Linked DNA regions of Homo sapiens. The protein of the gene in region 1 purifies or fractionates together with the protein of each later gene. This does not show direct contact. Each region holds a gene or a part of one and is shown on either strand. Other genes may lie near its edges. The genes, in order: KCTD15, GSTM2, RAB3B, EHD2, LRRTM2, HERC6 and PHGDH.

The links.
Region 2: the proteins of KCTD15 (region 1) and GSTM2 purify together in Homo sapiens (affinity purification with mass spectrometry, with the first as the bait; one large-scale study listed by BioGRID). This does not show direct contact.
Region 3: the proteins of KCTD15 (region 1) and RAB3B purify together in Homo sapiens (affinity purification with mass spectrometry, with the first as the bait; one large-scale study listed by BioGRID). This does not show direct contact.
Region 4: the proteins of KCTD15 (region 1) and EHD2 purify together in Homo sapiens (affinity purification with mass spectrometry, with the first as the bait; one large-scale study listed by BioGRID). This does not show direct contact.
Region 5: the proteins of KCTD15 (region 1) and LRRTM2 purify together in Homo sapiens (affinity purification with mass spectrometry, with the first as the bait; one large-scale study listed by BioGRID). This does not show direct contact.
Region 6: the proteins of KCTD15 (region 1) and HERC6 purify together in Homo sapiens (affinity purification with mass spectrometry, with the first as the bait; one large-scale study listed by BioGRID). This does not show direct contact.
Region 7: the proteins of KCTD15 (region 1) and PHGDH purify together in Homo sapiens (affinity purification with mass spectrometry, with the first as the bait; one large-scale study listed by BioGRID). This does not show direct contact.

Annotation. Positions count from the first base shown.
Region 1 is NC_000019.10:33,795,492-33,799,669, forward strand, and holds the start of KCTD15 (BTB/POZ domain-containing protein KCTD15), read left to right. Parts: upstream 1-1,378; 5' UTR 1,379-1,496; intron 1,497-1,625; exon of another isoform or gene 1,626-2,903; intron 2,904-3,176; 5' UTR 3,177-3,179; coding exon of another isoform or gene 3,180-3,275; intron 3,276-4,102; coding exon of another isoform or gene 4,103-4,131; exon of another isoform or gene 4,132-4,178. UniProt on the Homo sapiens protein: During embryonic development, it is involved in neural crest formation. Inhibits AP2 transcriptional activity by interaction with its activation domain.
Region 2 is NC_000001.11:109,673,422-109,675,786, forward strand, and holds the end of GSTM2 (glutathione S-transferase Mu 2), read left to right. Parts: intron 1-1,325; coding exon 1,326-1,415; 3' UTR 1,416-1,865; downstream 1,866-2,365. UniProt on the Homo sapiens protein: Conjugation of reduced glutathione to a wide number of exogenous and endogenous hydrophobic electrophiles. Participates in the formation of novel hepoxilin regioisomers.
Region 3 is NC_000001.11:51,980,701-51,984,200, reverse strand, and holds part of RAB3B (ras-related protein Rab-3B), read left to right. Parts: intron 1-3,313; exon of another isoform or gene 3,314-3,500. UniProt on the Homo sapiens protein: The small GTPases Rab are key regulators of intracellular membrane trafficking, from the formation of transport vesicles to their fusion with membranes.
Region 4 is NC_000019.10:47,737,422-47,740,527, forward strand, and holds part of EHD2 (EH domain-containing protein 2), read left to right. Parts: intron 1-3,106. UniProt on the Homo sapiens protein: ATP- and membrane-binding protein that controls membrane reorganization/tubulation upon ATP hydrolysis. Plays a role in membrane trafficking between the plasma membrane and endosomes. Important for the internalization of GLUT4.
Region 5 is NC_000005.10:138,868,421-138,871,009, reverse strand, and holds the end of LRRTM2 (leucine-rich repeat transmembrane neuronal protein 2 precursor), read left to right. Parts: 3' UTR 1-2,089; downstream 2,090-2,589. UniProt on the Homo sapiens protein: Involved in the development and maintenance of excitatory synapses in the vertebrate nervous system. Regulates surface expression of AMPA receptors and instructs the development of functional glutamate release sites.
Region 6 is NC_000004.12:88,437,852-88,440,724, forward strand, and holds part of HERC6 (probable E3 ubiquitin-protein ligase HERC6), read left to right. Parts: intron 1-2,022; coding exon 2,023-2,206; intron 2,207-2,296; coding exon 2,297-2,399; intron 2,400-2,873. UniProt on the Homo sapiens protein: E3 ubiquitin-protein ligase which accepts ubiquitin from an E2 ubiquitin-conjugating enzyme in the form of a thioester and then directly transfers the ubiquitin to targeted substrates.
Region 7 is NC_000001.11:119,739,434-119,742,933, forward strand, and holds part of PHGDH (D-3-phosphoglycerate dehydrogenase), read left to right. Parts: intron 1-952; coding exon 953-1,085; intron 1,086-2,333; coding exon 2,334-2,464; intron 2,465-3,373; coding exon 3,374-3,500. UniProt on the Homo sapiens protein: Catalyzes the reversible oxidation of 3-phospho-D-glycerate to 3-phosphonooxypyruvate, the first step of the phosphorylated L-serine biosynthesis pathway.

The DNA.
Region 1 (4,178 bases):
GGCGGTCGGGACCCAGGCGCCGTTCCGGCCCGTGCGCACCCGCCCCGCGGTCCCAGCCGGTCTCCGGCCCGGGCGTCCCTGGAGCCAGGCGGGGGCGCAGTGCCGGCCAGTCGCGCGCTCCGTTTCCTAGGAGCCGGGAAATGGTCGCCGAGGAGGAGGAGGAGGCACGGGCGGGGCGCAAAGGAAACAGGAGGAAGAGGAAGGGGAGGAGGAGTGGGAGTGGGAGAAAAGGAGGAAGGGGCGGCCGAAGCGGAGACTGGGGAGGGGCGTCCGGGGCGCGGACCTCGGCCGCGGGGAGTCTTGGCTGCCGCCGTCTCCATCGCGCCGCGCGCGTAAAGGAAATGGCGCGTCTAGCCGCGAGCGGTCGGCCCGGTGCCCCAGCGCGTCCCTCCCCCGCGGCGGCCGACCGCGTGTCCGCAGACGTCACGGGAGAGGGGCAGCGGGGCAGAGACCCTGGGAGGGCGGCCAGGGAGCGGGGGAGGGGCGGCCTGGCCCCCGGCTCCGCTCCAGCCCCGACCGACTGGCAGCCCAGTTTCTTCCCAAGTCCCGCCCCCAGCCCCGGGCGCCGCGGCGGCGGCTGCTCTCCTCTTTGTAACCGAGGAGTCAAGAAATGTGAGAAACGTGCCCTGTGTTACTTATTTGGGAGCCGAAAATTTATGCCCAGCTGAAAGCGCCCGGGGAAATATTACATCAGATGAAATGACAATGATTAAAATCAGCCTCTCCCCCGCCCCCTCCCCGAGCCCGGAGGAGGCCCGGGCGCCGCGTGGCCGGCCGGCGGGGGGCGGGGGGCTGGGCCGCGGAGGGCGCTGGGGCCTGGGCGCACCGCTCCCGGGAGGGTCCTGGCCGCGGCCCCGGCGGGAAGGCGCGGGCTTCGGGAGAGGCGGGTGGGGATCGCCCGGCGAAAGGAGGGGAAACGGCGCGTTTTTGTCGCCAGGCGCGGGCGCGCGGAGCTAATTGCGACTCTAATCCTCTGCCCCGCGGCGCAGCCGAGCCCCGAGCCAGGAGTCGCCGCGCGCGCCCGTTCGCGCTGGGTAATTTGGGGCCGGATCGCTGCCCTTTACGTCCGGGCTGGGCCGCGGCGAGGCGCTGGCTAGGGGCTGGAGTGGGGGGCTGGTTTTCTCTCCAGCAATCGAGGGAGGCCGCCGGAGAGAGAGGAGGGAGGAGAGGAGGTGGGAGCGGCGGGAGGGCAGCCGGAGAGCGGCGCGAGGAGGAGGCGGCGGCGGCGGAGGCGGCGGCCGCGAAGAGGGGAGGAGGCGAGGGGAGGGTGGGGAGGGGAGGCCCCGGCGCGCCGCGCCGCGAGGGGCCGCGTGAAGCGGGGGCCGGGGCGGGAGGGGTGGGTGGGGGGAGGGTTGGGGGCGAGAGAGAAAGTAACTCCAGGACGAGACCGGAGCGACCCGCGCAGCGAGCATAGGCGGCGAAGCTGCGCCCGGCGCCCGAGACCGGCAGCTGCGTGGGGCGGGGGCTGCGCCCGAGCCCGATCTGCCGGCTCCGAGGTAAGCTCAGCGCGGGCGGCCACCGCTCAGAGCCGCGCAACCCTGCCCCGAAGTGGCTGCGATACCGAGAAAGTCGCCCGGCCAGGGTCTGGACCTGGGCGGGGGCGGCCGCTTTGTCCCTCTGCTGGGCGGCGGGGGCTGGCGGCGCGGGGGTGCCCAGCACAAAGGCCTGGTGCAAGAGTGGGGTTGCCCACGTGGGCTGGTCCTGGCCGCGGGTGGACCCTCCCCACGCGGGCGGTCTCGGAGCTTCCTGCCGCGCGGTGTGTGTGTGTGTGTGTGTGTGTGTGTGTGTGTGTGCGCGCGCGCGCGCGCGCGCTTGTGGAGGTCCCCGCACTCTGGCCCCTGTTCTGGGCCGAGCGCCCTGCAGAGCTGGCGAGTTTCCGGGGTCAGAAACGGGCTCACGCAACTGGGGCTTCGGGATGCACAAGTCCCGGCTTGGCGCCCAAAATCAGAGAAAGTCTCCAGTGGGACAGATGTGCGTCCTCTGACGCCCACCCCACGAGTCCGAAACCTGGCAGGAGGGGCTGTCGCGCTGGTGGTGGTCCCGGGCGCGCAGGGTTTGGGGCTGGGAGAGGGGCCGCGATGGGAGGGATCGCCGCCTGCAGATCCGGTTCCCCGCTGCCCGCCCGCACCCCCTGACCTGGACGCGCGCACCCGGCACACACTCGCAAACACACCCGGGGGCGGACCCCCGCCTCTGCAGCGCCTTTCTGTCTTCCGGCGGCCCCCACCCGCGACTGCAGAAAGATAAGCTTCAAGTTTTCGCTCCGTATCTCAAATGTGCATGAAGGAATTTAACTGCACGAGTGAATAACAGCATTAGTTTCAATTAATTTTTTTTTAATCCCGGCAACAATAAACTTTGAGAACAAAAGCGCTTTTACGTCCTTAATTAGGCGAGCTTCCCATCTGTGGTCTCCAAGTGTCTGCCTCTTGATTTAACTTTGTCCCCGCCCCGCCTCCGCGGCAACCCCTCCCAGCCCAGCCCCGCGCTTCGGGTGCCGCGGCCACCCCGCCCCGCGGCGCCTCCAGCCTTGGCCCAAGCCCTCTCCCGTCGCCCCTAAGTTCACACCGGCCGGCTGGCTCCGCGGCGGAGGCGGGAGGGGGGGGGTGGGGAGGCTGGCGCGCACCAGGTGGCCCGCCTGCCTCTCCGGGGCCACCCCTGGGACAATTGTGCAGGCCCCCAGGACTTTCGCCCCGGGCCAGCGCCCTGAGTGCGGAGCCGAGGGGAGCTCGAGAGGCGCCTTCTGTTTACCTTTTATGGTTAAAATAACAGCTTAGCAAAGAAGCGACTTCAGAAGAAGCGATTTAGTGAAATCGTCTCAAGCTGCCGCAGCTCAGCCAGTTTAATCACCCCCAGAGAGCCGAACAACTGCGAGCGCAATGGGACACAAAATCATTTTGTGTGTAAATGAGCGTGGCATTCTGCTCACTTCTCTCTGCTCGGGCGGGCGGGGCTCGGCGGCGGGCGGGCAGGGACCCGGGTCTCCCGCCGCAGCTGGAGAAGCGGGTCACTACCGGGCCAGTTTGGAAACCTGTGGGCCCTCCCGACCGCTATCGCTGAGGCCCCTGCAACAGGCGGGCCAGGGCGCACTGGGGCTGGGTGCTGGGTTTGATGCTGGTGCTGGTGGAATGAACTTGTATCTCTCACTGCACCCACTTTTGTGCTTCTGACTTAAGCAGTGGTCTCGGAAAGAGGGTCGTGGTCCCGCACGGATGCGCTTGTTGGGAGAAACCTTGGAGATTCACGGCAAGGCGTAAAGCCTGGGGCTTCCAACGGTAAGTTTCTGGCTTGCCATGAACATCAGGTTGTTCTTGGGAGGGAAAAGGGGCTAAGAACAGAGTGGAGCGGCTTCTGTGATGGAGGCTTGGTGTTCACGTCACTTTGGAATAGTGTCCTGGTATTGGGGAAAACATCTTGCAGTCCGCTTTGATAGAATTTCAGCCAGAATTCCTTCCTGTTCAGTTTATCCTCAGCGCGTCTTCCCTTCTGACTCCTCCCCCAGCAGAGCCTCCTAGGGCAGGATAATCCATTCCTGAGGTCTGTTTTGGTTCTCAGAACTCCTTGAGCTAAGTGACCTGGTTTTGTTTTTTTAAGCTTGTAGAACTCAGGAATGCCAAAAGCAGTGGATTCTGAGTCCACAGGCCCCAGTGAGGGTATATATTAAACATCACTGTCTGCCCATTGCAACCTCCCACCCCAGTTTTATGTCAGGAAACTTGCCCGGGCACTCAGGGAGAGCAACCTTGCTTACATTTGCAGGATTTGATTCTGGTTGGATTAAAATTGGATATTGAATTTCAAGGCACAAATTTTGATCCCAGAGTTTTAATGGGAAAAAGCAATCCCATGGGTCCCAAGAATTTCAAGTGGTTTCTCTCTTAAAGGTTAAACCTTCGAGAGACGTCCAGGGTAGGTTTGTGGAAGCCAGTGTCTGTGGATGTGTGAAGGGGGGTGACTATTCACGTGCAAATCTCCTCTTTCCTCCCTTTTGAGACAGCTGTAAATCAGTGAACGGGGCTGCAGAATTCTGCCCCTCCTGCATAGGGCCTGCAAAGCGCCCCTGGGTGTGGCTTCCAGGGACTGAGGGACAATCTTATTTCAGGTGACTACGGCACAGAGGAGAGTTACTGAGTGCCTCTGGGGAGGAGCAGTAGAAAGGGTCCATTGGCTGATCTGCT
Region 2 (2,365 bases), on another chromosome or scaffold:
TTGAGGCATTTGTCCAACAGGCTTCTGAGCCTTGAATCTGTTTCCCTTTTCCACTCCCCATCAAGAGATCTGCTTGCTCAGCTAGTTCCCATCAGCTCTGGTTCTGCGGTTCTGGTCCAGGCTGAGTGGCCTTGGAGTTAGGTAAGAGGTGGTGGGAAGGGAGGGATGGAGGAGAGCTGAGAGCTATGGCCCGTTATGTGCCAGGGTCAAGCCTGTCACCCAGGCTGGAGTGCATTGGTGCGATCTTGGCTCACTGCAACCTCCGCTTCCTGGGTTCAAGCAATTCTCTGCCTCAGCCTACCAAGTAGCTGGGATTACAGGTGCCCGCCACCATGACCAGCTAATTTTTGTATTTTTAGTAGAGATGGGTTTTCACCATGTTGGCCAGGCTGGTCTCCAACTCTTGACCTCAGGTGATCCACTCGTCTCGGCCTTCCAAAGTGCTGGGATTACAGGTGTGAGCCGGATGTTTTTGAATACCTTATCTGGGCATTCAATCCTGGTAAGATTGTGCACAGCACATCTGAGTGTCATGTAGCCTGATCTGCAGCAGGGCTGGAGATGCCATGGGTTAGGGCACAGTGAGATTTTGCTAAGATACCAGATGGAGAACCTTGGACTTTCTGCTTTAAGGGGAATGATTAGAGCCTAGTCTCGCCTTTGATTTTCTTGTGCACTGCCACTCCCCATTCCACTTTCATCCAGGTTTTACTGAGACATTGGGTGAGTGTGTTCAGAGCCCCTTTGTTCTGCTGGAGGTCCCTTCTGTGTCTCTATACCCAGACAAGCCAAGAGCCTCCCTGTGGAAAAGGAGACTGTTTGTGCAGTCAAGGAGTGACAGGGCCTGGTGTGAGGGGTGGTGGGGCAGAAGAAGAAGAGAATTTGGCAGAAAGAGGCCAGAACTGGAGAGAGACAGAACCAGGCTACATTGAAGTTCTATTCCCCTTACTAGGTATTTAAATGTAAGGAAGTTGCTGAACTTCTGTTTCCCACATGACAAATGGTGATAATAGATTCAGCCTTGCAGAGTAGTCGAGTGGGTTTTCTAAGCTTACGTTGTAATTTCTCTTGGGTACAGAGCACCCAGCACCGTGTAGAATCTTCATAAGTGTTAGCTGTTACTGTGGTACAACATTACTTAAAGGAAGTTGGAAGAGTTAACTCCGCAGATCTGGGGACCCTAAGAAGCTGTGTGATGCCTCAGCACTTGAGCCCACATGGAAAGGCTGTGGCCAGGGCCCTGACCTGCTGTGTCTGCAGTGGGGTTGTGCCAGCCCTCATGGGCAGCTGACCTTGAGTTCTGGCCTTATTTTCCCCCCTCTCAGGGCTTGGAGAAGATCTCTGCCTACATGAAGTCCAGCCGCTTCCTCCCAAGACCTGTGTTCACAAAGATGGCTGTCTGGGGCAACAAGTAGGGCCTTGAAGGCCAGGAGGTGGGAGTGAGGAGCCCATACTCAGCCTGCTGCCCAGGCTGTGCAGCGCAGCTGGACTCTGCATCCCAGCACCTGCCTCCTCGTTCCTTTCTCCTGTTTATTCCCATCTTTACTCCCAAGACTTCATTGTCCCTCTTCACTCCCCCTAAACCCCTGTCCCATGCAGGCCCTTTGAAGCCTCAGCTACCCACTATCCTTCGTGAACATCCCCTCCCATCATTACCCTTCCCTGCACTAAAGCCAGCCTGACCTTCCTTCCTGTTAGTGGTTGTGTCTGCTTTAAAGGGCCTGCCTGGCCCCTCGCCTGTGGAGCTCAGCCCCGAGCTGTCCCCGTGTTGCATGAAGGAGCAGCATTGACTGGTTTACAGGCCCTGCTCCTGCAGCATGGTCCCTGCCTTAGGCCTACCTGATGGAAGTAAAGCCTCAACCACATTTGCTGTGTGTCTTGTCTTATTTGCTCCTGGCCATCTACCCAGACTGTCTGTCTGTCTGTCACTGCCTCTTCCAAGGGACTGGCTGGTGATCCTGGCAGTGGCTGGGTTCTAAAGGATTCTGCTGGGCATAGTAAGGCGCTTGAGAATTCTTGCTCCCATTCCTGAGAGACTCAGAGCAGGAAGCCCCATGAGGCACTGTGGAAAGGATGTCTCTTTCTTGGCCTGGATCTCCCATTCATTCATCCAGCCGTATTGAGTACTTTCCATAATTGCACAGAGCTTGTGTCTCATTGAATAGGACCCCAAGGGGGTGGAATCTCCATCAGAGAGAACCAGGGTCCCTTTTACCTTCTCCACTATATGACTGCATCACTTCTGTTAGGTCTCCAGGACCCAATCTCTATTGTTTTTCTCAGATGGCTTCCAGGTACCCTCTCCAGGCTTGCTGCACAGCTGTCATCAGGACGTTCTCTCTGGGTTTACTTCCTCTCTTTCCTG
Region 3 (3,500 bases), on another chromosome or scaffold:
CCTCCGCCTGCCAGGTTCAAGTGATTCTCCTGCCTCAGCCTCCAGAGTAGCTGGGATTACAGGCAGCCACCACCACGCCCAGCGAATTTTTTGTATTTTTAGTAGAGATGGGGTTTCACCATGTTGGCCAGACTGGTCTCGAACTCCTGACCTCGTGATTCACCCGCCTCAGCCTCCCAAAGTGCTGGGATTACAGGCATGAGCCACCGCGCCCAGCCCTTACTTTCTTTTCTTTTTTTTTGAGACAGTGTCTTGCTCTGTCACCCAGACTGGAGTGTAGTTGTGCAATCTTGACTCACTGCAGCCTCCGCCTCCTGGGTTCAAGCAATTTTTGTGCTTCAGCCTCCTGACTAGCTGGAATTACAGGTGTGCGCCACCACACCTGGCTAATTTTTATATTTTTAGTAGAGACTGGATTTCACCATGTTGGCCAGGCTGATCTTAAACTCCTGAGCTCAAATGATCCGCCTGCCTCGGCCTCACAAAGTCCTGGGATTATGGGCCTGAGCCACGGCACCTGGCCTCAAAATCTCATATTTTTGTAGTACTTTTGGTACTACTAAATTTTTGTAGTATTTAAGTACAGTCTTGCATTGCTAATGACAAGGATATGTTCTGAGGGATGTGTCATTAGCCGATTTCATAGTTGTATGAACATCATAGAGTATACTTACACAAACCTATATGGTATATGGTATAGCTTACTATACACATAGTCTATATGGAATAGATAGCCTATTGCTCCTAGGCTGCAAACCTGTACAGCATGTTACTGTATTGAATGTAGCAGGCAATTGTAACACAGTGGTAAGTATTTGTGTAGCTAAACACATCTAAACATAGAAAAGGTACAGTAAAAATATGATGGTTTTTTTTTTTGAGACCAAGTCTGGCTCTATCACCCAAGCTGGAATGCAGTGGTGCAATCTCAGCTCACTGCAACCTCAGCCTCCCGAGTAGCTGGGATTACAGGTATCTGCCACCATGCCTGGCTAATTTTTTGTATTTTAATAGGGATGGAGTTTCATCATGTTGGCCAGGCTGGTCTCTATCTCCTGACCTCAAGTGATCCACCCACCTTGGCCTCCCAAAGTGCTGGGATTACAGGTGTGAGCCACTGCACCCAGGCATAATATGGTATAAGAGATAAAAAATGGTACACCTATATAAGACACTTAACCATGAATGGAGCTTGCAGGGCCGGCAGTTGCTCTGGGGGAGTCAGTGAGTGAGTGGTGAGTGAATGTGAAGGCCTAGGACATTACCATACACTATAGGAGACTTTATAAACACTCTACACTTAGGCTACACTAAATTTATTTAAAAATATGTTTCTCCAATAATAAATTAACTTTGGCTTACTATAACTTTTAAACCTTATAAACTTAAAAAATTTTTAAAACTTCTTAGACTCTTTTATTTTTTATTTATTATTATTATTATTATTTTTTTGAGATTGAGTCTTGCTCTGTCACCCAGGCTGGAGTGCAGTGGATCTCTGCTCACTGCAACCTCCACCTCCCGAGTTCAAGCAATTCTTGTGCCTCAGCCTCCTGAGTAGCTGGGATTACAGGTGCGCACCACCACGCCTGGCTAATTTTTGTATTTTTAGTAGAGATGAGGTTTCACCATGTTGGCTAGGCTGGTCTTGAACTCCTGACCTTAAGTGATCTGCCTGCCTCGGCCTCCCAAAGTCTGGGGTTACAGGTCTGAGCCACCATGCCCAGCCATAGACTCTTTTATAACAACACTTAACTTAAAGCACAAATACACCGTATGGCCTTTTTTGAGATGAAGGCTCAGTGTGTCACCTGGATTGGAATGCAGTGGTGCAATCATGGGTCACTGCAGCCTCAAACTCCTTGGCTTGAGCGATCCTCCCACCTTGGCCTCCCAAAGTGTTGGGATTATAGGTATGAGCCACTGAACCTGGCCTTTTCTTTCTTTTCTTCCTTAGTTTTTAAATTTATGTTTAAAATTATTTTGTTAAAAAGGAAGACACAAATACACACACCTGAGCTTAGGCCTACACAGGGTCCAGGAGCATCAATATCACTGCCTTCCATTTCCATGTCTTGTCCCACTGGAAGGTCTTCAGGGGCAATAATAGGCATGGAGCTGTCATCTCTTATGGCAATATCTTCTTCTGGAATACCTCCTGAAGGACCTGCCTGAGGCTGTTTTACTGTTAACTTTTTAAAAAATATTAAATATAAATAGAAAAAGTACACTCTAAAATAACAATAAAAAGTGTAGTAAGTAAATACAGAAGCCAGTAACATAGTCATTTATTATCAATATCAAGTATTATGTATAGCACATAATCATATGTGCTATACTTTTATACAACTGGCAATGCAGTAGGTTTGTTTACACCAGCATCAACACAAATATGTGAGTAATGTGTTGTGCTACAATGTTACCATGGCTACTATGTCACTAGGCAATAGGAATTTTTCAGCTCCATTATAATCTTATGGGACCGCCATTGTACATGTGGTCTGTCATTGACTGAAATGTTGTTATGCAGTTCATGATTGTACTTTTAAAATTTAAGTGATTTGCTAAATGATAACATACCATATATTCTAGCCTATACCTTGTACATATGATGTCAGCTATTACAATATGCATAGAAGGTATAGACTAGAATGCATGGTATGTTATTTATATAGAAATAAAAAGTATAAATAGGTCTCTTTGCTTATATATGCAAGGGCTATCTCTGAAGGATATATAAATTGATAACATGTATGCCTCTGGGGAGGGGAACTGGATCAGGAATCAGAGATGGAAGCAAGACTTACTTTTCAGTGTAAACCTTTAGGTTTCATATTACTTGTATTTTATGCTAGGAATTAAGAAAATAATGCAGCTGGGTGTGGTGGCTCTCGCCTGTAATTCTAGCACTTTGGGAGGCCACGGAGGGCAGATCACTTGATCCCGGTTTAAGACCAGCCTGGACAGCATGGTGAAACCCCATCTCTACAAAAAGTACAAAAATTAGCTGAGCATGGTGGCACATGCCTGTAGTCCCAGCTACTCGGGAGGCTGAGGTAAGAGGATTGCTTGAGCCCAGGAGATCAAGACTGTAGTGAGCCAAGATAGTGCCATTGCACTCCAGCCTGGGCGACAGAGAGAGACCCTGTCTCAAAATAAAATAAAATAAAATAAAAATAATAATAATTGAGCTACAGCTGGTAAAAAAGGTAATACTTGCAAATAGGATATGCTTGAATTATTTTCCGTAAGTATGTATTACCTTTTAAATTAACAAATAAAACATAGTATTAAAATAGATGGCTTTTTTTTAAAGTACAATTTCCATTTTATTTTTCTCCAGGAAATAGTCCATCTTCAGTCTTTAAGGACTCAGCTCCTTACATGGGCTTTGGTGGGGGTCGTGGGGCAGCACCTACAGGTCTAAATCAGGGTGGGGGTGTTTGGTCCTTGCGGGCTTCATGAGATCGATTCCTGACTACTTTGCTGTGAATTGCACA
Region 4 (3,106 bases), about 14 Mb from region 1:
CAAGGCGGGTGGATCACCTGAGGTCAGGAGTTCGAGACCAGCCTGGCCAACATGGTGAAACCCCGTCTGTACTAAAAATACAAAAATTAGCTGGGCATGGTGTTGCGTGCCTGTAGTCCCAGCTACTGGGGAGGCCGAGGCAGGAGAATCCCTTGAACCCGGGAGGCAGAGGTTGCAGTGAGCTGAGATCACACCACTGCAATCCAGCCTGTGTGACCGAGTAAGATTCTGTCTCAATAAATAAATAAATAAAATAAAATATATACGTTTAAAAATTTATTTATATATTTTTTAGAGATTTATTTATATATTTTTCAGAGACTCTGTTGTCCAGGCTGGAGTGCAATGGGGTGATCATAGCTCACTGTGTACTTGAACTCCTGGGCTCAAAGGTCCTTCTGCCTAGCCTCTAGAGTAGCTGGGACTACAGGCACATGCCACCATGCCTGGCTAGCTTTTTTTTTTTTTTTTTTTTTTGAGACAGAGTCTCACTCTGTCACCCAGACCGAACTGCAGAGGCGTGATCTTGGCTCACTGCAACCTCTGCCTCCTGGGTTCAAGCAGTTATCTCACCTCAGCCTCCCAAGTAGCTGGGCCTGCAGGCATGTGCCACCACGTACAGATAATTTTTCATACTTTTAGTAGAGATGGGGTTTTGTCATGTTGGCCAGGCTGGTCTCGAACTCCTGGCCTCAAGTGATCCTCCTGCCTTGGCCTCCCAAAGTGCTGGGATTATAGGCAGGAGCCACCATGCCTGACCAAGAACACTTTCTAGAACAGAGCTGTCCAGCAGTACGTTCTACAATGATGGAAATGTTTCATTCTGCACTGTCCAGTATGGTAGCCACTAGCCACATTCAAATGGAATGTTAACGTGTATTTCTTTTTTCTTTTTTTTTGAGATGGAGTCTTGCTCTGTTGCCCAGGTTGGAATGCAGTGGCAAGATCTTGACTCACTACAACCTCTGCCTCCCGGGTTCAAGCAATTATCCTGCCTCAGCCTCCCAAGTAGCTGAGATTACAGGCATCCGCCACCACGCCCAGCTAATTTTGTATTTTTGGTAGAGATGGGGTTTCACCATGTTGTCCAGGCTGGTCTCAAACTCCTGACTTCAGGTGATCCTCCTGCCTTAGCCTCCCAAAGTGCTGGGATTGCAGGCATGAGCCACTGCGCCCGGCCTGTATTTCATTTTAATTAATGTAAATAAGCACATGTGGCTAGTGGCTGCCATACTGGACAGGCTAACAGTAGAAGCTGCACATGCAACCTGTGCTTGCCTCAGTGGACTTGAACTTAGTCATACTCTGGCTGCCAGGGAATCCAGGTTGCAACCTAGGATCCCCAACCCTTCAGAGTCGTGATCAGCTGGCCTCTCTGCCTTGGCTCAGGAAATTCACATAGGGCTGTGAAAGGAATCCATTTTCGCAGAGACTGTCCTGGTGCAGTCTGGGCCACTTAGAGTAGCCCGTGTGAGAAGCAGTGTGACGCCAAGTCCACCCCTACACCCCAAAGTGACTTCTTCGGTGGGGAGGGGGTGGTCCCAGGAACCCCTGATGATCTGATCATCTCAAATCTCACCTCCAAATTTGGCAGCCAGCCACTCAGTCCTTTCTGTGTGGTGTGGTAGCACTGTGACAGGAATTAAGCTTTCTTAACTTTCTTTTTTCTCTCCCCCCCTGCACACTTTTTTGTTTTGAGACAGGGTCTTGCTCTGTCACCCAGGCTGGAGTACAGTGTGGTGCTATCTTCGCTCACTGCAACCTCTGTCTCCTGGGGTTCAAGAGATTCTGTCTCAGCCTCCCAAAGTAGTTGGGACTGCAGGCGTGCACCACCACACCTGGCTAATTTTTAATTTTTTTTTTTTTTTTTTTTTTTTTTTAAGAAATAGGGTTTTGAGGCCAGGTGCAGTGGCTCATGCCTGTAATCCCAGCACTTTGGGAGGCCGAGGTGGGCAGATTGCCTGAGGTCAGGAGTTCGAGACCAGCCTGGCCAACATGGCGAAACCCCATCTCTACTAAAAATATGAAAATCAGCTGGGCATGGTGGTAGGCGCCTGTAATCCCAGCTACTTGGGAGTCTGAGCCAGGAGAATCGCTTGAACCCATGAGACGGAGGTTGCGGTGAGCTGAGATCGCGCCATTGCACTCCAGCCTGGGTGACAGAGCGAAACTCGTCAAAAAAAAAAAAAAAAAAAGGAAAGAAAAGAAAAGAAATAGGGTTTTGCCATGTTGTCCAGGCTGGTCTTGCACTCCTGGGCTCAAGTGATTCTCCCACCTCAGCCTCCCAAAGTGCTGGGATTACAAGTGTGAGCCACCCAAGCCTGCTGAGTTTTTTTTTTTTTAACTTTTAATGTTGTACGTGCTGGCTGGGCAGCTGGAGTTGGGTAGAGGGCGGTTAGGGTTCTAGGCTGGTGTGGATGCTCTGAGAAAGCTATACTTGATGCGAAAATATTGAAATCCTTCTCTGCTAGCTGGCAAAGGGCCGCTGCTCTCACTCATCAGAGGGGCCCCAGCCTCCCCACCCTCCAGTAATTCTGGGGCACAGGAGAAAGCCTCTGGGACCTTGTTGCCCAAGTATCTTCTCATTGGTGGGTGCCCGAGCGGAACAGGTTGTTCAGATGTTCAAATACTTCTGCATGTGTCAGTAAAGAGCTGCCACTCTGGCTGGGTACAGTGGCTCACACCTGCAATCCCAGCACTTTAGGAGGTTGCGGTGGGAGGATGGCTTGAGCTCAGGAGTTCGAGACCAGCCTGGGCAACATAGCAAGACTTGGTCTCTACAAAAAATTTTTAAAACTAGTTGGGCGTAGTGGCGCACACCTATAGTCCCAGCGAATTGCGGGGGCTGAGGAGGGAGGATCACAAAAATTTAGCTGGGTGGGTGGTGTGTGCCTGTGGTCCCAGCTACTTGGGAGACTGAGGCCAGAGGATCGTTTGAGGCTGGGAGTTGGAAGCTGCAGTGAGCTATGTTGGCACCACTGCACTCTAGCCTAAGTGACAGAGCGAGACCCTGTCAAAAAAAAACAAAACAAAACAAAACAAAAATGGCTGGGCGCGGTGGCTCATGCCTGTAATCCCAGCATTGGGAGGCTGAGGCGGGCGAATC
Region 5 (2,589 bases), on another chromosome or scaffold:
GTGCTCTTTTTTAAGGTGGGCAGATTAGTTTGTCAAAGTCTCAGCCCAGTTCAATTCAGTTGATCTCGAGTGGTGAGTATTTTGTCTCTTGTTAAACCAGACCCTGGGCTTGTCTGGGCAGAGACAGAAGCTGATTTAACAGCATAGAGCACAGCGCCCTACTTCCCCACAGACAGGCTGAATTAGAAGCCCCTATTACAAATAAGAGCACCACGAGCTAAAATTTACCAACCCATTTATCAGGATGACCATTGCCATTTGTCAGGTGACAGACAGCTTGGTCACAACACAACTGTGTCCTGAGCACACAAGATTCCATCAGCCCTGAAGGACAGCAGAGGAGTATTTTCCATCATTTCAAACCACAAACAAAATTAAGATTTAAACTGTGGGATGGGTAAGAAATCCCCTTCTTTGGCTGGGAATCTCCACCTTAATCCTTAAAGGACCATAACTGGCAAAATCCTTAGTGTACGGACAAAAGCAAATTGGAAAAGCCAGCCATTTACTAATTCAGAGGAACAGCATAGCCAAGGCTAGCGAGGCATACTTTCCAGTTGAAAAAAATCAAAATTTTTTGCCTTCCATTTTTCTGGGTAATGTCCTTTAAGAAAAGTGAATGACAGTAGTACCAAAAAGGTATTTTCCTTTCTCATTTAAAAGCAAAAACCTCCCTTTTTAATTGCCTGTAGAAGGCAAGATTTTCTTTCATTTTTGTCCATTTGTGTTTCAGAATCAGCACAGGTTTGAAGATTAGACTGTTAGTCATCTGTGCTTTCTTTACCAACTGGCTAGAACGGAACAGCATCACAGCAACGCTGCGGATCTTGGTTACACAGTGTCAGAGCTTTTGTTTTTTGATGGGGTTTTATCCTCTTCACCACCACTACCCACTCCATTTTTTTTCTATTTTTAAGATTAGAGGAAAATGACCATTAAGAACCAGAAAAATAATTAATCTCTCTGGAAAAAGGAAAGCTAAAGAAGACTATGATACCATACCCATCTAGAAACCAAGAACTAGTTTGAAATCGTTTATATTCATTTCTGTAGCATGACAGGGATTTCAATCACCTTTCTGAAAAGAGTGGGCTGATAAACTTGTAAATCCACACACAACTCTGAGAATACCCACTGCCAGCATCAAAAAGCAAAGATACTAATTTTTTAAGCCAAAAATCTGTACTAACACATGTAATTTCTTAATGTGCCTAAGTTAATTTCTGTATCAATTCAATAAATGGAATTGACTGAACTTCCCAACGCCACTAATTATTAAAATCCATCTGCTTATTCTAATGCTAGTCACCAAGAGCTAGACTCCATCTTTCCAATAAAAATGAGCCCTATGTAGCACTAGGTTTGAATTCTAAAATTCAAAACAGGCATTTCATTTTCTTAAGGCACACTTCCTACACACAGCTATCAGGGGAAAAAGCTATAAATGTCCTGTTCTTTTTCTGAAGTGTGGATATCAATATAAAATTTGTTAAAGAATATTTTTAACAGCTGACTTACATGATCGTTTTCCTAATACAGGAATACAGCGACAGACCTATCTGAAAAGTCTGTTTGGGGGCATACTTTTCATATCTTATTGACTAAAGCCCTTGAGCCAGGAAAAAAAAAAAAAAAGAGAGAGAGACAGTAAGGCCATCTATAGATAATTAAATATTTCTCTATCTAACCTGGGGCAAACTCATAGTACTTGAATAAGGCCAAAAACAAATAGAAAATTACTGTTTAAGCTTTCATTCTGCTATTGCAAACATTTGGAAACCTCTGCAACTCTTTCAACTAACATTTTTGTCCTTAGCGGTTTTTTTTTTTTTTTTTAAGTCTGATATATGGAATGTTTGGTGAACCTTCCTATCAACACTGAGACTGGAAACTCAAAGTACAGTCCAAATACATTGTGTTCAATCACCTTCAAGAGCCATTTTTCTTTTTGGGTGGGAGGTGGGCAGATGGGTTGAGGGTGGGAAGAAAATACTATTATGCAGGGTGTTTTGGGAGGGGGGAGGGTAACATAAAGAGCAGTGTACAGGCAAGTTTTGTTATTAAAATTGTGTATACTGTAAAAAGTGAATGCCTTCTTTTTACTTTTCCTTGATAACCTATCAATTTTGACATGTGAAACTTGAAAAGCCATTTGTGACAGACATAGAAATCTTAAATGAACAGTTGTTTTATTCCATGTTCCTCTACAATGTCAAATGTGTCCACTGAAAAAAGGGGCAGCTAATCATTACCTGTCTTCAGAGAGAGGTAAAACTAGGATAAGAAGAAAGTAAAGGTAAAGTGGTGAGAAGGGAGAGTGCCTAAAAAGCTGTCATGCAGTAAGAAGCTGCTCTGTCAAGAGCCTGAGCAAGTGGACAAACAACTGTCCCAGGCTCACAGGGCATGGAGTTGGCTGCCCCTCTCTGAATCCTCCATTACAGTGAACTAACACCACAGAGAGCTTCGGAAAGGTACCAATTGCCTGTATCTAGCCAACAGCGACTTGGCCTCTACCTTGGGGGTTGGTTGATGTCCATCCCAGCAGCACCTTCCATGCCACTCCTAGGAGGGAGGTCCCACAGGTGCTTA
Region 6 (2,873 bases), on another chromosome or scaffold:
AAATGTATTTTTAAATATGGTTCACACCTGTAATCCCAGCAATTTGGGAGGCTGAGGTGGGTGGATCACTTGAGGTCAGGAGTTCAAGGCCAACCTGGCCAACATGGCGAAACCCCGTCTCTACTACAAAAATTAGCCAGGTGTGGTGGCACATGCCTGTAGTCTCAGCTACTAAGGAGGCTGAGGATTGCTTGAACCCAGGAAGTGGAGGTTGCAGTGAGCCGGGATTGCGCAACTGCACTCAAGCCTGGGCAACAGAGTGAGACTGTGTCTCAAAAAAAAAAAAAAAAAAAAAAAGCATTTTAGCTTCTCAGGTGATTGTTTTAGCTCCTAATCTTTTAGAAAAAAGAAGCTTTTAAGATAAAAGAAAAGGAGAAAGAATTCAGGGTTCAATATTTCCTTTGTAGCTCTTTTTACTATTTATTCATTTAGCAAATATTTTTGAGCCCCTATTCTGTACCAGACTCTATTCTAGGTGCTGGAGATACAGTAGTCAAAAAGACAGACAAAATTTGGAGCTTAAATTCCAGTGGGGCAGAAAGACAATACACAAATGAATCATTATTATTTTTAATAGAGATGGAGTCTTGCCATGCTGCCCAGGCTGGTCTCGAATTCCTGAGCTCAGGCAGTCCTCACACCTCAGCCTCCCAAAGTACTGGGATTACAAGGGTGAGCCACCGCACCTGGCCACAAATGAATTATTATGTAATATAATGTCAGATAAGGATGAGCACTCTGAAGAAAATTAAAACTGATTAAGAAACTAGGGAGTTCCAGGTGGTGGTATGCTGGAGCTCACTAGTACCAGCTTGTGAGAGCTGATTGTTAAATTTTCAAAAATGTTAAGAGTTTATTATCAAAGTATTAGTAGCTGAAAATCAGCCACAGTGGGAATATTAACACCACAGAAATTCGCCAATGCTGCAAATGTGTGTCCCCTCCCCTCCCACTCCTTTTCAGAGAGCTGGTTGTTAGATATTTACCAGCACACCAATGGTTACAGGGGAAGGCAGACAAGAGTTGATTTAGATAGGCTAGTCCACAAAGGCTGCCCAAAGTGTGGGAGACAATCATGTCTCTGATGGAAATGCCTCCAGTAGCAACCCTGCCATCAGGAAATTAATCATTTAGTAGAAATTACATCCTGTAGTATAAGACAGACCTTGCAGGAATAATTTTCACAAAGTGACATGTGTTGTGAGAGGGGACAAGCAAAGGAACAAAAGGATCAACCCTGAGAAAGTCTTACTTATATTGAAATCTAATGGATGGTAGAAGTTATCAGGTAAAGAAGAAATGCTGCATTCTGTGGCCTAACTACAAAAGAGAGACAAGACCTATGAACGGGGCCAGAAGTGAAAATGGAAGTGGGAGCTGGGCACCATGGTGCATACTTGCAGTCTCACCTACTCAGGAGGCTGTGGCGGGAGGTTCGCTTGAGGCCAGGAGTCCAAGTCCAGCCTGGGCAACACAGGGAGACCCCATCTCTTAAAAAAAAGAAAGAAAAAGAAAGGAAAGAGAAAGAAAGAAGAAAGAAAGAAAAGGGAAGGGAAAGGGAAAGGGAAGGGAAGGGAAAGGAAAGAAAGAAAGAAAGAAAATGGAAGTGGGAAGAGGCCCCTTGCTGAGACTGGCAAGGTCAGATAATTGAGGGAGGAGCTAGGCTTGGGAAGGCCTGTTGATCCCTGCTAAGGAGGTTTGGAATTTACCCCAAGGGCAATGGGAAGCCTTTGAAAGACTTTAAGCAAGAGAATGACATATTCAGATTCATGTTTTAAAAAAATCCTCCTGACTGCAGTGAGGAAAGTGAGCCAAATAGTTTTAAACCTTCTGATTATATTTTCTAAATTTCTTTCTTCTAGCTGACCAGGTTTTGGTCACAATACAACATTCTTGTGCTATATAGAAGTAATTTACTTTTCCTTCTCAATAGAAATAGTAAAAAGAACAAAGTATAAAATCTTTTAATCATTGGCCTTTTCCTTCCTTTCTTTTTTTTTTTTTTTTTTTGCTTCCCTCAAGGAGAGACTATGTTTCTAAGTATATTGATTACATTTTCAACGTCTCTGTAAAAGCAGTTTATGAGGAATTTCAGAGAGGATTTTATAGAGTCTGTGAGAAGGAGATACTTAGACATTTCTACCCTGAAGAACTAATGACAGCAATCATTGGAAATACTGATTATGACTGGAAACAGTTTGAACAGGTAGGTGATACCTAAAGTGCCCCAATTTTTCCGAACAACTTCTATATATTCCACCCCACTCAAATCATTTTTCTCCCTCTTTCTCTCAAGAATTCAAAGTATGAGCAAGGATACCAAAAATCACATCCTACTATACAGTTGTTTTGGAAGGCTTTCCACAAACTAACCTTGGATGAAAAGAAAAAATTCCTCTGTAAGTACTGTGGTACTAGATGGACACATAATTATGTATCTTTTAAAAAGGTACAGTCTTGTTTAGAATGAAGCCATTGAAGTGGCCTCATTGTCTGGGGTGACACCCAAGGTTCTTTGTCTCACAGCCATGGAGATCAAGGACATGGACACACACAAAGGGTGAGGTATAGAGCAGAAACTTAATAGGCGAAAAGAGAATAGCTCTCTGCTACAGAGAGGGGTCCCAGAAAAATGAGTTGCTGATCTGTGGTGAAATGCAGGGTTTTTTATAGATGAGCTAGTGAGGAGGTGGTGTCTGATCTACATAGGGCATGAAAAACGAGTTAGGACCAGGTGTACCATCCGCATAGGGCACGAATCTCTGGCAGCCCCTACCCCAATCTTTGATTATACAGGTGGGTAGCTACTCCATGGTGCTTCTTTCTTACTGTGCATGTGCTAAAAAAGGGGGGAGGTGGAACCCCCATGGTGG
Region 7 (3,500 bases), on another chromosome or scaffold:
AGAAGCCTGCAGACCTGTCACCTCCCACACTGGAGAGGCTCCCGTGAAGCCCGGCCTCAGCAGTCATTTCCCATACCATGATTCTTTCTCTGTTTAAAAAAAAAAAAATTCTTCCAATGATATCTTTATGAAAACAGAAAGAGAAGCATCTGTGTTTCCTTCTAATTACATCTTGTAGCTGCCTGTTTGATTTGCATCTTTCTAAGATGGTTGACTTTACAAGTTATCTCAATAAAAGTGGCCAGATGCCTAACTCAGAACCAGAGCATTTTGAACCACAAAATGGAATTGAAATTTTGGCCCAGAACAAGCTGGTTCTGTTATCAGGCCCCTGGGTGGGGCAGGGGGCAGCCAGCCAGGTCCTAGACATAACTTTTGGGGGATATGGGGCTTGTGTCCCCTCAGTGTCACAACATGCCTCACAGTGGACTTCGCATGCGTTGATATTTGAAGCACGATCATCAAAACTTTGTGATAATTGATCGTAGTGTTTAGTAACAATGTAAACACTTAAAAAAATTCAAGATAGAAAATAAAAATGAAGGCAAGTTGGGACTGCCAGAGAAGACCCGTCACTCCTCATCCAAGTTATCTGCGACTCCCATATGTTTTGTGTCAAAGACTCACCTTTATTGTGCTGTCCAATCCCTTCCCCAGTGCAGAAACAAGTCTCCCATGGAGGGGGCTGGGGCAGACACAGTTTGCTGAAAGGAGCAATTTTGAGTGGTTGTGGCATTCTGTGTCCATTTCTGGCTCCACAGCTTTCTTCATTTGTAGGAACAAGTCCTTGTCCTGTTGTTAGTGGCTGATGGAAGTTGTCACCCACCAGGCACCAAGGCAGGAGTGACCCTATACTGTCTTTCTTGTGGAGCTGGGTCTTGGCAGCCAGATCTTGATTCAGGATCTGCCATGCCTCTTCCTGACCACAGCCCCGCTCCTCCATCCTCTGCAGGTGAATGCCCAGGCCCTTACCAGTGCCTTCTCTCCACACACCAAGCCTTGGATTGGTCTGGCAGAAGCTCTGGGGACACTGATGCGAGCCTGGGCTGGGTCCCCCAAAGGGACCATCCAGGTGATAACACAGGGTGAGCTGGGGACCTTGCAGAGGGAGGGGGAGGAGGGGATGAGGGAGTGTGGGATCTGCCCTGCTGGGTGTATTTGCTGCAGGACACAGGGTTAGTGAGAGGCAGTGAGGGTGCCTTGGACCCTGCCCTGAGTATAGCTCCCTTACTACTGGTGGGAGGGTGGTAAAGGGAGGGGTTAAAAAAAGTCGTTGGAAAGATGTACTGAATATTCATAAATCATGTTTATGTAGCATTTTTAAGACCTAGATATTTTGGGTGCAAGAGAAACCTCTACGAGAGAGAGAGTTTCATGCGAGAGGTCGTAGGATGGCTGGAGGGAGGCCCTAATTAAGCAACAGGATGCTGGATTCTGGTTTTTGGCCCTGTCTCTTCCCTGCTGTGTGACTCTCCCTTCTGAGGCTTGGATTCTTCACTTGTAAAGTGAGAGTTAGGGGCAGATGAGCCAGGAGCGGTGAGGACACTTTGTGCTCTGTAACTTACTAAGGTGGTACCTTGGGCCGTCTGACAGCCCTCGAGAGAGAGTTTGCTCAGCCGTGGAGTGGGAATGAGAACAGTGCCCTCTGACCACCCCTCGGGCTGCTGAGTGGGCTGTGGCCACCTTTGCAGTGGATCCAGTACTGTGCGGATGTGGTTGAGTGACCAAGGAGGGCTCCAGTTTCCTTAACCCTGTAGACGTGTATCTTTCCCCATGGACTCTTGGGTGTCTCACAGTTGGGCAGAGATTGCAGGGAGAGGGCAGCTAAACCCTAGGCATTGACAATACCAGGGAAGGGCAGAGCCAGGGGGTCCCACTGGCCTGGGTGTCCAAGCGCCGAAGGAAACAAGGCAGGGAGCTGGGCAGCAGTTGCTTCGGTTACTTCTTTCTGCTTTGATTTCCTGAGGCTGGCAAGGCTCTGAGTGCCAGGAAGGGGTAAGAGTAGGGAATTTTCCTGTGTCCCCTGGGAGAATAATAGGTAGGCCAGGATGGCCAAGCCAGGTGCAGGGTTGGGGAGCGGAGTGGAGTTGAGCTGAGTTTTGGAGAGGAGTTTCTCAGGGTGGTTAAAACATCCTGGGTTTCCTGGCTTGGGCCCAGATTATGCCTCTTCTGAGCCCACTGAAGGGCGAGTGGACCTGCCTGGAGCAAGCTGCCTTTGGGGTCCCCAGGGCAGCGAGGAGCCCATAGTCCAGAGCTAGGTGCCAGTGGCTTCCTGCCCCCTCCTGTAGTGCTCAACAAACAGTGACCTCATGGTAGCTTCTCTCTGTCCCCAGGAACATCCCTGAAGAATGCTGGGAACTGCCTAAGCCCCGCAGTCATTGTCGGCCTCCTGAAAGAGGCTTCCAAGCAGGCGGATGTGAACTTGGTGAACGCTAAGCTGCTGGTGAAAGAGGCTGGCCTCAATGTGCGCCCCTCTCCCCCACGCTGCCTCCCCATCCCTGTCAGCACTAGTCTTCTCCCCCACATTTCCAGAGCCCGTTCTCTGAGCGGAGGCCTAGGTCCCAGCCTTGCATCGGCCTGTCTACCTGTGAGGGGTAGCTGCAGTTTCTTCAACTGCAAAATGAAGATACTGCCTGGCCCCGAGTGTTGCTAATGGCACTGCTTTGTGTATGAGTGCTGTGGGAATGGAGGCAGTAGAAGTGTCCCCATTTCACAGCCAAAGAAAATGACGAGCTAGTGTGTTTGACTCTGCCCGACATGGCTGCCAGGCCATGTTTGACTCTGCCTAACTCCCCTCAGGGCTCCTCATGCCGTAGCACCCGGGTTCTTGATTCACTTGCAAGCTCTAGGAGCCCTGCTGCCTTGCACGGCTTCCCGTTGGCGCCTTCCCCTCTGGTTCCCTGTTTAGATCAAAGTCTGTTTCAAAGCCTGTTGCTCAGCCAGTGGGAGCTGGCAGAAGGGATAGGCAGTAGAGCTGCCATGTCCTCACCCCTCTGCTCCCCTCCACTCCTGCATGCCAGTCATGCCACTGATGCCGTGCAGGAGGCTGTGTCAGAGCAGGAGGGGCCAGAGTGGAGTCTCCTCACAGCCCTGCCTCCCTGCTTTTCTTTCCTCCCTGTTTTCCTCCAAGCCTTCGCCTGTGCCTGGCAGATCTCTTTGCCCTCCCTTTAAGGAGATCATTGGCTGTTCCAGGAAGCTGATGCCGAAGGGCACACAGCTTGGCCCATTTGCCCTCTCCCTTCTGGTCCTGAATTACTGAGCACATTATCCAGGCTGGAGCCCTACATCCTACCAATGGGTGATTTGGCCAAGAGAGGAGGGTGGACGTGGTGCAGCCAGGAGGTGTAACAGTCACCTTGCCTTCTCCACACAGGTCACCACCTCCCACAGCCCTGCTGCACCAGGGGAGCAAGGCTTCGGGGAATGCCTCCTGGCCGTGGCCCTGGCAGGCGCCCCTTACCAGGCTGTGGGCTTGGTCCAAGGCACTACGCCTGTACTGC